Regions from separate parts of the Homo sapiens genome. Here all the other regions are linked to region 1. Evidence: fine-mapped expression QTL. A gene starts in region 1. Each other region holds a variant in brackets. All regions are shown on one strand. Distances are from middle to middle.

Region 1 (5,320 bases):
CTGAGTAACTGGGATTACAGGCATGCACCACCACATCGGCTAATCTTTGTATTTTTAGTGGAGACAGGGTTTCACCATGTTGGTCAGGCTGGTCTCGAACTCCTGACCTCGTGATCTGCCCGCCTCGGCCTCCCAAAGTGCTGAGATTATAGGCGTGAGCCACCACGCCAGCTTTTATTTTTTAAAATTTTTTTGAGACAGAGTCTCACTCTGTCACCCAGGCTGGAGTGCAATGGCACGATCTTAGCTCACCGCAACCTCTGCCTCCTGGGTTCAAGTGATCCTCCCACCTCAGCCTCCCGAGTAGCTGGAATTACTACAGCTGGTCTTGAACTCCTGACCTCAAGTAATCTGCCCACCTCGGCCTCTCAAAGTGCTGGGATTATAGGTGTGAACCACTGCGCCTGGCCTATTTCCCTTTATTTATATTATATTTTATATTTTTAAGAGACGGGCTCTCGGCCAGGCACGGTGGCTCACACCTGTAATCCCAGAACTTTGGGAGGCTGAGGCGGGTGGATCACCTGAGGTCAGGAGTTCAAGACCAGCCTGGCCAACATGGTGAAACCTCCCCCCTCTACTAAAAATACAAAAATTAGCCAGGCATGGTGGCACATGCCTGTAATCCCAGCTACTCTGGAGGCTGAGGCAGGAGAATCGCTTGAACCCAGGAGGTGGAGGTTGCAGTGAGCCGAGACCACACCATTGCATTCCAGCCTGGGCAACAAGAGTGAAACTCCGTTTCAAAAAAAAAAAAAAAAAAAAGTGACGGGCTCTCTAAAACTCTGAACTCCTCCTGGGCTCAAGCGATCCTCCCGCCTCGGCCTCCCAAAATGCTGGGATGACAGGTGCAAACCACCTCTCCTGGCCCTATGATTGCTATTTAATAGAGAAATGAAAAGGAGACTCAAAGAGGGAAAGTGACTTGCCCAGGGTGACACAGCAAAGAAACGAGGGAAGCTAGAATTGAAGGAGTGGAGGAGTATTGGGGGAGGGGGGCAGACTCCTGGGACTTTCTTTTCTTTTCTTTTCTTTTTTTTTTTTTTTTTTTTTGAGACAGAGTCTCCCTCTGTCCCCCAGGCTGGAGTGCAGTGGCGAGATCTGGGCTTACTGCAACCTCCGCCTCCCGGGTTCAAGCGATTCTCCTGTCTCAGCCTCCTGAGTATCAGGGACTACAGGCGCGCGCCACCACCCCTGGGTAATTTTTTTTTTTTTTTTTTTTTTGTATTTTTAGTATAGACAGGGTTTCACCATGTTGGCCAGGCTTGACTCCTGGAACCTTTCAACCAAAGCAGCCTGGGGCCTGAGCGGCCACCTCCAAAGCCTGTTTCCCCACGTCACCTCCCTGTACTCACTACTTTTGGCTCTGGAGGTGTAACTCGGAGGGGGCTCCCAGGTCCCCAAGAGGCTCCCACGAGCAGTTCAAGTCGCCCAAGGGTCCAACTCCGTAGCACTGCAGTGGCCCGGCGCTGCCTGGAGAGGGAGTCAGAGGGTCTCAGGAAAGGGGGTCGAATCCCCCCCTTCCGCCTGCACACCCCAGAACTTGGACTTCTGACAATTGCAAGGTGGGGGGGCTTAGGGAAATGAGCAGCAGGAAGGGAGGCGCTAGGCACCCCTGCCCGGGCTCCGTGCAAACCCCCCCTTTCCCTGTGCTCGCCACATCCTGTTAACCACCCAGAGAGCTCCCCCACCCCGCCCCGGGGCTCCGGTTCGACCTCGCTGCCGCCCATTCCCCAGTGTCGCCGGGTCCCTGCCCCGGGAGGAGCCGAGTGGCGCCTGCACCTCTACCGTTCGCTCTGCATACGCGTGGCTTATCCTGGAGCACTGGCGCCTTCGCGGGGAGCGCAGCGGCAGCGCCCGGGACACGAGCTCCCTCCAGCACTCACCCTGGGGACGCGTCCGCTGGAAAAGCACCCACAACAGAGGCAGCAGCGCCAGCTTGGGCAGCGGCCACAGCCAGAAAGGGGCGCCCCTGCCTCCCCGCATGGCGTCCCTCGGGAGCCCCGAGTCCGGCCCAGCCTTGCCGGGTCCGCGCGGCCGCGCTGCTCCTCTTCGAGCTCTGGGTACAGCGCCCGAGGCGGCAACGGGAAGCCGAACCACCCCGGCAGGCCGCCTCCGCACCTTTCGCTCAGGGTCCCCGCCCCTTCCCCGCGACGGAAAGTCCCCGGCTGGGGCTGCTTGAGGGGGAGTGGGGAGGCGGCCTGGGCGTCTGGGGGTGGGGGCCTCCGAGGGGTGGTACCGCGTACCGCGCATCCCCGAAACCTGTCCTACGCCCAACAACCATACACACACACACACACTCTCTGCCAAAGTCTTCGAATTTTTATTATTGGAGTTTGGGAAGATTCGAATGTGCCCAGAGCTCTCCTAGGGGGGCCACCTGCCACCTTCTCTGGGGTCCACAGCCTTGGAACTCTGGCAGGGGAGTTGGAGGGAGAGGGGATGGAAAGCAGGGCAAAGGAAGCGTGCGTGCAAAGGCTGGACTGAGACAGAGGCTTGATTTTAGCTGGTCAGGGGACAATGGCCACAGTTTGGACTGGGAAGGGGGCAGGGGTCTCTGTGTGGCCAGCCTAGGTAGAGTAGGGACCCAGTTGTGGCAGTGGAGTGTGTAGGCCAGGCAAACGCATGGTTAGGGCTGGGGAGAGGTCAGGGGTCAGGATGGGGGGGTCCCCACTTGACCAGGCAGGGGCACAGCTTCCTTAGGGGCCAGGGTCATGATAGGCTGGTCAAAGGGCAGGGTTGGATAGGTGGTGTCGGGAGACTGTGCCTGAGCCCACAGTGCCTCTGTGACTTGTAGATGAATGAATGAATGTGTGAGGCTCGAAAGACAGGTGCCCAGCCAGACACTAGTTGAGTGGATGGCAGGACTGGGGCATTGGTCCTGGTGCCCACGGCTGCCCAGCCCTCAAACTAGCAAAGGCTACTGATTTCACTTTTGCTACACCCCCACTTGCAGCAGCTGCTGGAAAGGCCAGCCAGGACATCTCGGCTGCCCCGAAGAACCCCAGGGGTTCCTTGCCAGCTGGGTCGCCCCCTGTAAAAGGCCTGGGGTGACTTGGTCAGGGCCAGCCACTCGCTGGACCCCATGGCCTCATCCAGCTCGCCTGCCAGACTGTCTTCATCAGCATCTGCATCCGGGAAGGTATCTCCTGCAAAAGATGAACAGAGTTAGTGATCAGGGCTCAGCTGCTGCTGCACCCACAGTCATGGCTCCTGGCCAGTCTAGCTCTGATCTTGTGACAACAGTCATAGACATAGTTCAGAGTTTTTATTCCACCCAGTCCTGGGTTCAAATTCTGGCTCTGCCAGAGTAGGTGGGATTACAGGTGTCTGCCAGCAGGCCTGGCTGATTTTTGTATTGTTATAGAGATGGGGTTCACCATGTTGTTCAGGCTGGTCGCAAACTCCTGACCTCAAGTGATGTGCCCACCTCAGCCACCCAAAGTGCTGGGATTACAGGCGTGAGCCACCGCACCCAGCCCTGTCATTTATTTCTCCTTACTCTTTATTAATTGAGGACCTGGTACATTTGGGAGCTGGGCTGACTGAGCATGAATCCAGCTTCTCTAATCGTGAGCAAGTAAATTTACTTCTTGGAGCCTCAATGTTCTTTTCTGCAAAGTGGAAAAAAATAATTACTCCAACCTTCTCAAGTTTTATAAGGAGTTAATATTCATTAAAAAAAAAAACTTAGAACAATGTCTGGAACATGATGAGCACTCAAAAATGACTATTGAGTCCGGGCACGGTGTCTCACACCTGTAATCCCAGCACTTCCAGGGGCACATGCTGGAGGATCACCAGAACCAGGAGTTCAAGAACAGCCTGGACAACACAGCACTACCCTGTCTCTACAAATAATAAAAAGTTAGACATGTTGGCACAAGCCTGTAGTCCCAGCTACTCAGGAGGCTGAGGCAGGAGAATTGCTTGAGCCCAAGAGGTTGAAGCTGCAGTGAGCTGTGATCACACCACTGCACTCCAGTCTGGGCAACAGAGCAAGACCCTGTCTCAAAAATAATAATAATAATAATAATAATAATAATAATAATTTATTGATCACTTACTTTGTGTCAAACAACGTTTTAAGTGCTTTAGCAGGTTAACTTCTTTATTCTTCTCAGTGATAACCAGTTGAGGTGGGTGCAGTTATCACCCGTATTTTCCAGAGGAGACCACTGAGGCAGGACTCAGTAAAGAATTTGCATGGCTGGGCGCGGTGGCTCATGCCTGTAATCCCAGCACTTTGGGAGGCTGAGGTGGGAGGATCACCTGAGGTCAGGAGTTGGAGACCAGCCTGGCCAACATGGTGAAACTGTCTCTACTAAAAATAAAAAGATTAGCGAGGTATGGTGGCACACATCTGTAATCCCAGCTACTTGGGAGGCTGGAGGCACGAGAATCGCTTGAACCCAGGTGATGGAGGTTACAGTGAGCCAAGATTGCACCACTGCACTCCAGCCTGGGCAACAGAATGAGATTCTGTCTCAAAAAAAAAAAAAATAGTAGCACATGAACACACAACTATTACATTGTAGAGCTACTATCTGAATCCAAGTGGTGTGTCTTCTATGTCCACGCTCATACCTATCCTCCTTCTCACCATCATGAATATCTATTTGCCAGGTCCCTGCCCCTCATGAAGCTAGGTCTTCTGTTCCCTCTGACTCTCCTGATGGATCCCAGATTGTGCCGCTGCCCTGCTGAGACTCTGCCCTAATCTGTTTTGATTTAATCATACCACTTAATCCTGCAAGATTCAGGAACTGTGTCTCCCATTTGAAGATAAAGACACTCAGAGACTCTAATCTCAGCACTTAGGGAGGCCGAGGTGGGAGGATCACTTGAGCCCAGGAGTTCGAGACCAGCCTAGGCAACATAGTGAGACCCCTGTTTCTACAAAAAAAAAATTTAAAACTAGCCAGGCATGGTGTCAGGTGCCTGTGGTCTCAACTACTCTGGAGGCGGAGGCAGGAGAATCACTTGAGCCTGGGAGGTCGAGGCTGCAATGAGCAGTGATTGGGCCACTGCATTCAAGCCTGGGCAATGGAGTGAGACCACATCTCCAAAAAAAAGACACTCAGAGACGGAAGAAAAACCAACTTGCTGGGGAGAGGTCATGCATTAGGTGACAAACCCAGCTATGTGTATACCACACCCTTCACATTACCTGCTGGAAAGGGTTGGAAAACACTTCGGTGTTGTCTTTGCAAATGGCACGCTCCCCGCCCCCACCTGTCCTCAGACTTCCAGCCCCCATGGATGGCTTGCAACACCCCATCCCAGCTCTGCAGCTCTGCTAACTCCTGAGCCCTTGTTT
Region 2 (6,318 bases), 22 kb before region 1:
GCAAGTCAATTTCCTTTTCCAAGCCTTAGTTTTCCCATCTCTAAAATGGGAATAACAACAGTATAGGCCAGGCATGGTGGCTCACGCCTGTAATCCCAGAACTTTGGGAGGCCGAGGTGGGCGGATCACTTAAGGTTAGGAATTGGAGACCAGCCTGGCCAACATGGTGAAACCCCATCTCTACTAAAAACACAAAAATTAGCTCGGTATGGTGGTGTGTCCCTGTAGTCCCAGCTACTGGGGAGGTTGAGGTAGGAGAATCACTTGAACCCTGGAGACAGAGGTTGCAGTGAGCTGAGATCACACCACTGCACTCCAGCCTGGGCAACAGAGTGAGACTCTGTCTCAAACAAAAATTAGCTGGGCATGCTGGCAGGTGCCTGTAGTCCCAGCTACTAGGGAGGCTGAGACAGGGAAATCGTTTGAAACCAGGAGGCGAACGTTGCAGTGAGCCGAGATTACGCCACTGCACTCCAGCCTGGGCGACACAGCAAGACTCCATCTCAAAAAAAAAATTAATTTGTATTTATGTTGATTGGAATGTAAGTGCCAAAAACAAAAGGCTTAAGTGTCCCTTGTGCATGGTAACCAGTAACTGACAAAGTAGGCCCCTAATACAGATTGGCTATGGGAATGCAGTATTGTTTAAGCACCTACTGTGTGCAAGGCCCTGGAACATAGGGCAATAAGATAGATGAGGAAGGCAGAGGTACAATGTGGAGTTTGATCCTGAAGGTAATAGAGAGCCACTGAGGGTATTTAGGGGTGGTGGGGTGGGAGCCTAGCATGCAGGGAGGCTGGAGGTGGGGATGAGGGCCAGCCTGACCTTGTCTCCGCCATCTCTGCAGGGTCACCGTCCTCTCTCCCAGTCCATTGTCGAGGCAGGTTCTGTAGGTAAGTGTGGGAGCCCCTAGGTCTGGGGGTCAGGTCACCCCAGAGCCTGGGTGTGAGAGGGTGACTCAAGGGGAGTGTGGATGGCAGTCCTTTTGTTCCATCTTAACCCTGTCTTCCCTTTTGTCCTCTCCCCTCCACCTCTGACTCCCCCAGGCCAGACTGATCTGAACAAGAGAGCCTCCCTGCCGGCTGGACTAGTGGGCACGCCTCCAGAGTCCCCCTCTGAGCCCAGGGAGGATGTCTTGGGGTTTCTGCCAGGCCCGAGGCAGGTCCCCGGGGCAGCAGGAGACTCCTCAGAAGCCAATGGCCCATGCCCCAGCCCCATCCCCACTCCAGAGCAGGGGCTAAGTCAGAGGGCAGTGCCATCCGAAGGGCGGGTGGGTGAGGCCAAAGGAGGGGGCGTGGTGAGTGTGGTGTGGGAAGGGCTGAGGGCCACAGAGGACTGTGCCACAGGGGCCACGGGCCCCGAGCTGGAGGCTAAGGTGGAGGAAGTGGTGCTGGAAGCCATCGGAGACAGGAAGGGAGCTGGTAGCCTGGAGCTCCCGGCCTGGGTGAAGGAGGACAGGGGCATCGTGGAGGTGGTCTGGGAGGGGGTGGGTGGCAGTGATGCAGAGGCCATGGGGGAGATAGGCAGGGTCCCTGAGGTCGTGCAGACTAGCTCGCCTAGGCTCCAGGAGAGATTAGAGGCAGCAGCTTCCATAGAAGGGGAAGATGTGCCCCAGGGCAGCCCTGAGGGTGATGGGCAGGGAGGCTCTGGAGGAGAGGAGGGATCCTTCATTTGGGTGGAGAGAGTGACCCTCAGTGAAGAGTGGGAGGAGCTGCTGGTGGAGGGGTTGGAAGGGCCCGAGGTGGCAGGGAGGGAGAGAGGAGATGAAAGCCCGCTGGGGGCCGAGGGGGCCAAGACGGGAGGAGGCGAGGAGACCTGGGAGGCAGAGAAGAGAAAAGCGGAAGAATCCATGGGAATAGGAAGTGAGGAAAAGCCAGGGACAGGGAGGGATGAAGCGGAGATGTCACCAGTGGTAGAGAGGAAAGGAGGAGAGAAGAAGTTGGAGCTGGAGAGCAGAGGAAGTGCAGAAAAGCTGGGAACAGAGAGGGAAGGAGGTGAGGAACCACTGGGCATAGAGAGAAAAGTTGAGGGACATTTGAGGGCAGAGAAGGAAGGAGATGAGGAAAAGCGAGGGGCAGAGGAGGAGGAGGTAGAAGAACCATTGGGAGTAGAGAAGAAAGGAGGTGAGGAAGAGCCAGAGGCAACCAAAGAACCACTGGAGGCAGAGAGAAAGGGAGGGGAGGAGACACTGGAGGCAGAGAAAAGGGGAGGTGAGGAATCATTGGAGACAGAGAAGACCCAAGGGACGGAGGGAGATCTGAATCTAGAACAAGGGTCTAGGGAAGGAAGTGAATCCCAGGCAGAGGAGATGAATGAGGCAGGGCCTCCCCTTGAGGCTAACACGGAGACAAGGCCAGAGAAGGAAGGACCCCAGCCCCAGGAGAAGCCAGTAGGAGCCCTGGAGGAGGAAGGAGTGAAGCCCCAAACCGCTGCTGAGGGCCAAGGCCCCTTGGGGGATGCCACACCTCTTCTGGCAGAGACCCCAGCCCCAGAGCAGCCCGCCGAATGCCAGCCACTGCTTCAGGGGGAGGGGCCCAGCGCCAACCCCAGTGCCCACCCTGTGCCCACCTACGCGCCTGCCCGGCAGCCTGAGCCATCTGCCCCCACCGAGGGTGAAGAGGCAAGTGGCCCTAAGCAAAAGACGTGCCAGTGTTGTGCGGTCATGTGAACCCATGCCCCTCCACCCCATGTCCAGCTCCTCTCACAGCTACCTCGGCCTCTTGGCACCCAGAAGAGGGTCCCAGGCACAGACAGGGACCACAGGACTGGCCATGGCACCTGGGAGCCAGCTAGCCTGCACGTCCACCTAAACCTGGGCTTCCAGACCCCTTGCCCACTGCCTGTAACCCTGGCCTCCTTCTGCGATGAAGCCTTTATACTTGAAAATAAAATGTGAAAGCACTCAAGACGGCTTGAATGTGTGTGTAGTCAGCACAGAATCACAGCGTCATCTCCTGGTGGGAAATTTGAGGCTTAACCCTGCTACAGTCAAAGATTATGAATCAGTGAGAGTATAGATTGAGCTGCTGTAACAAAAAGACCTCAAAGCTACAGTAGCTATAAAAATATAAAAGTTTATTTTTCTTAGTGGTTCTATCCATGCAGTCATTCAGGGATTCAGGTTCCTTTTCATTTCTTGCTCCACCTTCCCCTTGGGTATGACCAAAGCTGGATCATAGGCATGTGTTATGTTCCAGCTCATAGGCAAGGAAAGGATGTGGGGGAGCCCCCACCCAGACCCCGTGTTGGCATATGTCACTTCTGACCACATTCTGTTGTCAAGAACTCAGTCCATGCTGCACCTGGATGCAAGGGAGCTGAGATGGTGCCCAAATGCAGTGTTTTTTCTTTTCTTTTTTTTTTTTTTTTGCTTTTTATTAGTTTGTTTATTTTTGAGATAAGGTCTCATTCTGTTACCCAGCCTGGAGTGCAGTGGTGCAATCAGAGGTCCCTGCAGCTTCGAACTCCTGGGCTCAACCGATCCTCCCACCTCAGCCTCCCAAGTGGCTCGGACTACAGGTGTGTGCCATCATGCCCAGCTAATTGTTTTTGTTTTTGATGTTTTATTTTTGTAGTGAGGGGTCTTGCTATATTGCCCAGGCTGGTCTC[A/T]AACTCCTAGCTCTAAGTGATCCTTCCACCTTGGCCTGCCAAAGTGCTGGGATTACAGGCGTGAGCCACTGTGCTGGGGTCCAAATTCAGTTCTGTTACAGCGGAACAGATTTTGGCAGGCAGCTGCCACTCTCAATTTCATGTATTTTCCTTTGCTCCACCTTCCATCCGTGTCTTCCCCATGGGGGCCAAGCCCTTCTCTATAGGGGTCCTTCAATCCCAGCTCTGCCTGGCTGGGTGTCCTCAGGTAAGTGACTCAGCCTCTCTGAGTCCTCAGTGTCTTCATCCATCAAGAGGGCTAATCCAGGACTGGGGTGCAACCTGCATGAGCATCCCTCTAGCCTGGCTGGCAGCCCCCAGCCAGACGTGTGGTTCAGGCCAGAACCTGTGGCCTGGGGGGCCCCAGAAGGCCCAGCTCCTCAGGTGTGGGCAGGAAGTGCTTCTCATACCCAGAGTCAAGCGGGGCGGTGGCCTGGGCGGGCTGGGAGGACTCCATAACCGGCGGGGGCTCCATCTCCTCCACTTCCAGGATGGGCAAGTCCCCAAGGGGCTGGGCCTCAGGTACTTGCTGGGAAGAGATGAGCCTGTAATCCTGCCCCAGCCTCCCCGACCCACACCTCACCCCCTCCCCACTGCCCCAGGACTCCCCAGTCCCCCAGAGGGCTCCGACTAGCCGGCCCTTTGACTCACCTCCATGTGGGGCTGGCCTGAACTGCTGTTGGCAGGATCAGGAACTTTCTCCCAGACCCAGCGGGGCAGCACTTTGTGCCTTAGGTGGTAGCACCTGGCAAGACAGGAGTAGTCAGGGCAGCAGATCCAGATGGCCAGATGCCCCAGCCCAGGGTGCAGGGTTCATGAATGTGACTGCGCCCTGAGGCCTCCCTTCAAGCCCCCTGGAAGCTCAGCAAAATGCCCAGCTGCCTTCCCCACGTGGGTAGAGATGCATGTATCCGACAGCCTCACCTTCCAGAGGTGGCCAGGCTCAGGCCACACCCCAACAGGAACAAGCCCCACAAGAATAGGATGCCCGGCAGAACTTTCCACCTCAGGGTGTTATCTGGTAGGGTAGGGAAGAGATCATTCTTAATTTTTTATTTTATTTTATTTTTTATTTTTATTTTTGAGACAGAGTCTTGCCCTGTCACCCAGGCTGGAGTGCAGTGGTGCGACCTCAGCTCACTGCAACCTCCGCCTCCTGGGTTCAAGCAATTCTCTCTCAGCCTCCCAAGTAGCTGGGATTACAGCCGCACGCCACCACGCCCAGCTAATTTTTGTATTTTTAGTAGAGATGGGGTTTCACCACATTGGCCAGGCTGGTCTCGAACTCCTGACCTCAACTGATCCACCCGCCTCGGCCTCCCAAAGTGCTGAGATTACAGGCGTGAGCCACTGTGCCTGGCAATTCTTAATTTTTTAAAGACAGGGTCTTGCTTTGTTGCCCAGGCTGGAGCGCAGTGGTGTAATCCGTGTACTGCAGCCTCCAACTCCTGGGCTCAAGCGATCCTCGAGCCTCAGCTTCTCCAGGAGCTGGGACCGCAGGCGCATGCTACCACATCCAGCTAATTGTTTTATTTTTTGTAGAGAAGGGGGTCTCACTATGTTGCCCAGGCTGGTCTCGAGCTCCTGGGCTCAAGTGATCCACCTGCCTCAGCCTCCCAGAGTGTTAGGATTACAGGGGTGAGCCACTGCACCTAGCTTCCAAGTAATGACTCCAGATGCTACCTCTCCCCACTGTGGAGTACATCCCCTCCCTGTGGCAATCCCATCCCAACCCCCCTACCTGGTAGATGAAGCCGGAGGATGGGACCAGGAGGGCCCTGTCCAGCGATGGTAGATGCTGTCACCCACAGCTCACAGGGACCCCAAGGAAGGTCAGGCAGGGTGACACTCTGTGTGTTGCCACTCACTGGAGAACACAACCAAAGAAGTTGGGGAGGTGGTCAAGCCTACCACAGGGCCTTTGCATGTGCTCTTCCTGCTGTCTGCAACACTCTCTCCCAGGTATCCACATGGCTCCCTCCTCATCTCTTTTAGGTCTTTGCTCAAAGGTCACCTCTTCCGTGAGGCTTTCCTTGACCCCGCTCTATTTGAAATTGCACCCCCTTCACCACCCACCTTCCTTGTTTGATTCTCTTTTTTTTTTTTTTTTTTTGACATGAAGTCTCGCTCTGTAACACTCTGTTGCCCAGGATGGAGTGCAGTCATGTGATCTCAGCTCACTGCAACCTCTGCCTCCTGGGTTCAAGCAATTCTGCTGTCTTAGCCTCCTGAGTAGCTGGGACTACAGGTGCCCGCCACCACATCTGGCTAATTTTTATATTTTTAGTAGAGACTGGGTTTCACCATATTGGTCAGACTGGTCTCAAACTCCTGACCTCAGGTGATCTGCCCACCTCGGCCTCCAAAAGTGCTGGGATTATAGGTGTGAGCCACCTTGCCCAGCCCCTTGCTTCATTCTCTACTCAGCACTTATCACCATCTCATACACTGCTTAGATATTATTTAGTTTGTCTTTGCATGATCTTGGCTCACTGCAACCTCCACCTCCCGGATTCAAGCAATTCTAGTGCCTCAGCCACCTTCTGAGTAGCTGGACTACAGGCTGTGCCACCATGCCTGGCTAATTTTTGTATTTTTAGTAGAGATGAGGTTTCACCATGTTGGCCAGGCTGGTCTCGAACTCCTGACCTCAAGTGATCTGCCTGCCT
Region 3 (5,000 bases), 44 kb after region 1:
GTCACATCCTAGCTCAACCCTGATGGCTCCAAGCCAGGTGGTTCCATGGGCACTCTTTGAGAAACCCCAGCCTAGGCTTTCTCAGCTCTGGGAGAGCAGGCTCCTTCCCCTCCCCCGATACCTGACAAAAAAGGACTTTAAAAGCTACACACACAGACACACACTCTCTTTCTCTCTGTCTGTCTGTCTGTCTGTCTGTCTGTCTCTCTCTCTCTCTCTCTAAGCTGGGTGTGGTGGTGGGCGCCGTAATCCCAGCTACTTGGGAGGCTGAGGCAGGAGAATCGCTTGAACCCAGGAGGTGGAGGTTGCAGTGAGCCAAGACTGCACCATTGCACTCCAGCCTGGGCAACAAGAGTGAAACTCCGTCTCAAAAACAAAAAAACAAAAACAAAATGCAAAAATGCTCCACACACCCTGTGCCCCTACTAGCAAATGTCAAGCCCCTTCAACTCTGGCCTGCCAGCCTCCCAGCCTCGCCCACTTCCACCCATCCCCTCACATACCTGGTCCAGCCCCTCTTGCCTTCCTACAGCTCCACAAACCCGCCAGGCTCAGTCCTGCCTCCTGACCTTTGCACTCTCGGTACCCTCTGCCAGGAGCACTCCCTGCCCCAGACCCTCTGGGAGCTTGCCTCTTGTCTCCCTTAGGTCGCTGCTCAGACACTACCTTTCTGACTCCACACCTCCCTGCCCCTACCCCCATTGCTCACTCTCTGTCTTCTTGTTTGTTTGTTTTTGAGACAAAGTCTCGCTGTGTCACCCAGGCCGGATGCAGTGGTGCGATCTCAGTTCACTGCAACCTCTGCCTCCTGGGTTCAAGCGATTCTCCTGCCTCAGCCTCCCGAGTAGCTGGGATTACAGGGGCGCACCACCACACCAGGGTAATTTTTGTATTTTTTGGTAGAGATGGCGTTTTGCCATGTTGGCCAGGCTGGTCTCAAACTTCTTACCTCAAGTAATCTGCCTGCCTCGGCCTCCCAAAGTGCTGGGATTATAGGTGTGAGCCACTGCGCCCCGCTGGTCTTCTTAACACTTAACACTACTTGAAGTTACAATAATGGGATGGTGGGGGTGCCCACCTGCAGGCAGGGCTCTGTCAGTGCTCAGTCTCTGTGGAATGACTGAGGAGCACCAGCCTGACCCAGAACAGCCTAGAGGAGCACCTAGCACAGCCATCATGTCCCATCAGCTCCTGCATGGCTGACTGTTTGCAGGAGGCCTCGCATGTCACCAGTGGATGGCTCTGCTTGGCGCCCAGAGTGTCTGATGGGTCCTGATCCACGCCCTGGGTGTGGGTCTTACCTGCTTCAGGGTCCAGGCTCCCTAGAGCCAGGGTCTGGAGTGGGCACACAGCTCCAGGCTCCACCACTCCCCAAGTCCTTCCACTCTTGACCTTGGCTTCTCCAGCTCTTCCCGCACTCCCTCAGGGGGGCCCTGGTGCTTCAAAGTCAAGACCAAGTCCCCGCACTTTGGGAGGCTGAGGCAGGCGGATCACCTGAGGTCAGGAGTTCAAGACCAGCCTGGCCAACATGATGAAACCCCGTCTCTAATAAAAATACAAAAATTAGCCCGGCGTGTTGGCGTGTGCCTGTAGCACCAGCTACTGGGGAGGCTGGGGCAGGAGAATCGCTCGAACCTGGGAGGTGGAGGTTGCAGTGAGTCGAGATCATGTCATTGCGCTCCAGCCTGAGTAACAGAGCAAGACTCTGTCTCAAAAAAAAAAAAAAAAAAAAGAGCAAGAAGTCAAGAGCAAGTCAAGAGCAAGGCATGGTCTTTGGGTCAGACAGAGCTAGGCCGGACTCTAAGTAGCTGTTAGGCATGGGGAGGTGGCCTCTGTCTCCCCCATCTTGGTAGTGTTCCCAGGAGGGTACTCTGTACCCATGAGGGCAGGCTGTAGCAACCCTGCTGTCCACAGAACTCTCTGGGGCTCACTTTGGTCAGGCGGTAGCTTAGTCGCCTTTCACAGTGGTCCCAGGGAATTTCATTTCCCTGCCACTCCACATTCTGGCAGGTGCCAGCCTGTCCCCAGAAGGGTCACTGGGCAATGCTTCCTGGATTTGTTCTGAGGAAGAGGAGGTTGGCTTGTGCCCTGCCAGCTGTCCCCTCCCCCACCCCTTGCAGTAACTCCCCAGCCTTCCTCCCTGACCCTCTGCCAGGTTAGCGTCCTTCCTCATCTAAGGGTGGCCGGGGCCACGTGAGCGCCGGGGAAGCAGGAGTAACTGACACCAGTGAAGGCTGCCACAAGGCACCTAGGACTTCTCCCAAGCCAGGAGCAATCGGAGCTGACCAGGGACCCAGGGAGGTGGCAGGGAAGAGGAAGGGAGGGGCCTGGACCCAGACTTGGAGCCTGGGGCTGGACACCAGCCGACACCAAACCAGACACAGCTCACCCAGCCCCGGTCCCTGCCTGCCCTGCCTAAAGGTGACTTTGGAGGTGGTAGGAAGGAAGATCAAGTTTCCCTGGTCAGGAACAATACTAGATCCATAAATCCCTGTCCTCAGAGGCCATCAGACTCTCCCAGAACCCAAGGCGGAAGGAGAGTGCTGTGGGCTCTGGCAGCCACTCCTGGGAAGGTGAAACCGAGCCGGCCTGCAGGGAACAGGGGCCGCCCCGAAGGAGGGGCCGAGTCCGGCCCTTCTTCCCTGCTTCTCTCTCACTTGGAGTTCTAGGGGGGCCAAGAAGACTTGTGTCCAGACAGAGAAGTGGAGTGTGTTTGTCAGCATTCCCAAGCACAGATGGGGAAACTGAGGTTGGAGCAGACAAGGGATAGAGGACACTGGGGGCAGCAGGGGCCCCTCCAGGAGCCCCTGACTGACATCATCCCAGGGAGCCCAGGGGCAGGAGGCAGAGGGTCAGGTGGCCCCATCTGTCTATGGGGAAGGGGGCCAGGCCCCCAGGGTGGATGCCAGGAGTCCAGCCTCTAGGGCCTCCCCTGGGCTCCCCCAAGTAGCTCATTTAAGGTTTGAGTAGGTCTAGATGGGGAAGTGCGGGGCCCGGGGAGGATGGGTGCCCACTTGTCAGAGTCATTCCACTGCTCAGAGATGTTAATGTGTCAGATTCAGAGACAGGAAATCGGCCGCCGTTTCCTGAGACAGTGGGGGCCTCCCTGGCCTCCTGC[G/A]CATGCCCAGAGTGGCGATCTCCGGCAGATAGATGCAGACGCTCGCTCGCAGACTCAGTGCCACCCCCCACTTCCCCTCCTGGCTTCTCCTCCCTGAAACACAGCGAGGGCCAGACCCAGTGGTGGAGGGGCCCTGCCCCGGCCGCAGGCAGACAGGGATGGCTGCACAGGAAGCCCTCATCCGCATGAGTCACTCAGGCTCACCTGTTAGCCTCGTGGCGCATCCCCTGGCGCCCTCCTGGGCTGGCAGGCGGGGTCCCAGCCTTGAGGGCTACCCCAGAGGCAGGAGACGGGCAAGGCTGCTTCCTGGAGACAGCCACCTGGTCTCAGCAGGTCCCCAGGCCTCCTCCTGCTGTAGGTCCTGCTCAGCGACCAGCCCCTGAGCCCTGGAGAGGGTGGGGGGCCAGCCCCCCACTCCCTGCCCACCTTGAGCTTCCTGGGTGAGACACCATCCCTTAGGCTGGGCCTGAGTCCTTGGACCCCACGGACCCAGGTGTGCAGTGCCGGTCACATGACTCGGGGCTGTCTCGGGTTTCTCCCAGGAGGGGCCCTCTCAGCAAGGGCCTCCTCCCTTATGGCTCAGGGCTGGGAAGCCTAAAGCAGATGCCAGGGAAGATTCCAGCAAAACACAGGGATTAGGGCCTGTGGAATTGGCTGCACAGGTAGCTGGTCAGGCAGGCATGGGATTGACCAAATGCCCCACAGCCCACATGCGGCTACGCGGAGGCCTCCCCCAACACCTCCCACATCTGGCAACCCCCGCCCCCAACACACACTCCTGCGCTCTGCCCTTGACTTGGCCTTTGCATCTGCCCTGAATAGCCCTCCTGCCCTGTCCAGGCCCCTCTCCCTCCTGTGCCCTGCCTGGACAGCCGAGACCCAGTCTGGATACTTCAGACTTTGAGGGGTCCCCGTAGACCCCCAGCTTACTTTCCTTCCTGTGCCCATATACCCAAGTTCACACATCACTGCCCTTGGGGCGCAGCCCAGGCAGAACCAGTGACTCCGGTTCCATATGTGGTATGAGGTTCGTGTGGGCCCAGAGGGGAACCTGCGTCATGGCCTGCACGGTGGATGGTGCATTTGACCTTGGACAGATCACTTCCTTGCTTCTGGTCTCTGTTGCCTTGTCTGAAAATGGGTAATAAAAGCTCTTACTGTCAGCCAGGTGCAGTGGCTCATGCCTGTAATCCCAGCACTTTGAGAGACCGAGGCGGGCGGATCACTTGAAGCCAGGAGTTCAAGAGCAGCCTGGCCAACATGGCAAAACCCCGTCTCTACTAAAACCACAAAAATTAGCTGGGCGTGGTGGCGGGTGCCTGCAGTCCTAGCTACTCAGTGGGTTGAGGCAGGAGAATCACTTGAACCGGGAGGCGGAGATTTCAGTGAGCAGAGATTGCGCCACTGCACTCCAGCCTGGGCAACTGTGAGACCCTGTCTCAAAAAAAAAAAAAAATCCCGGAAAGCTCTTACTGTCAGCCAGGCACAGTGGCTCACGCCGGTAATTCCGGCACTTCGGGAGATGGAAGCAGGTGGATTGCTTGAGTCCAAGAGTTCGAGACCAGCCTGGGCAATATAGCAAGACCCCAGTCCCTATTAAAAATACAAAAATTAGCCGGACATGGTGGTGCATGCGTGTAGTCCCAGCTACTTGGGAGGCTGAGGCAGGATAATTGCTTGAACCCCAGGGGACAGAGGTTGCAGTGAGCCAAGATCGTGCTACTGCACTCCAGCCTGGGTGACAGAGCGAAACCCTGTCTCAAAAAAACAAAAAAGCTCTATCTCTGGCTGTCCAGAGTCTAACATAACACCTAGTGTGCCAGAAGCAACACTAGTGTCTGCAGTGATAACTCCTTGCCCGTGGCCCTTCAGTCCTGCCGGG

Evidence for each region. PIP is the estimated chance that this variant, and not a neighbour inherited with it, causes the effect.
Region 2: its variant is fine-mapped to the expression of IL27RA in whole blood (TOPMed, PIP above 0.99).
Region 3: its variant is fine-mapped to the expression of IL27RA in whole blood (TOPMed, PIP above 0.99).

Annotation. Positions count from the first base shown.
Region 1 is chr19:14,028,539-14,033,858 of GRCh38, reverse strand. IL27RA (interleukin 27 receptor subunit alpha) reads right to left here and starts at 2,097. Exons shown (of 14, transcript NM_004843.4): 1 at 1,887-2,097; 2 at 1,356-1,473. The coding sequence starts at 1,986. It overlaps RLN3 (relaxin 3), which reads right to left. Exons shown (of 2, transcript NM_080864.4): 2 at 2,308-3,149. The coding sequence ends at 2,911. RefSeq lists silencers at 1,879-1,928, 1,939-2,058, 2,069-2,118, 2,189-2,318 and an enhancer at 4,885-4,934.
Region 2 is chr19:14,049,956-14,056,273 of GRCh38, reverse strand. It overlaps IL27RA (interleukin 27 receptor subunit alpha), which reads right to left. Exons shown (of 14, transcript NM_004843.4): 11 at 5,391-5,516; 12 at 4,574-4,667; 13 at 4,301-4,394; 14 at 3,056-4,178. The coding sequence ends at 3,984. It overlaps PALM3 (paralemmin 3), which reads left to right. Exons shown (of 7, transcript NM_001145028.2): 6 at 849-894; 7 at 1,048-2,907. The coding sequence ends at 2,669. Among named protein-coding and RNA genes, the nearest start is that of PALM3, 9.0 kb to the left of the region's middle. RefSeq lists an enhancer at 1-174. The variant A/T (reference allele first, on the strand shown) is at 3,611.
Region 3 is chr19:13,984,757-13,989,756 of GRCh38, reverse strand. All of the region lies in intron 2 of RFX1 (regulatory factor X1), which reads left to right. Among named protein-coding and RNA genes, the nearest start is that of RFX1, 19 kb to the left of the region's middle. RefSeq lists enhancers at 1,843-2,733, 3,549-3,598, 3,625-4,516. The variant G/A (reference allele first, on the strand shown) is at 3,119.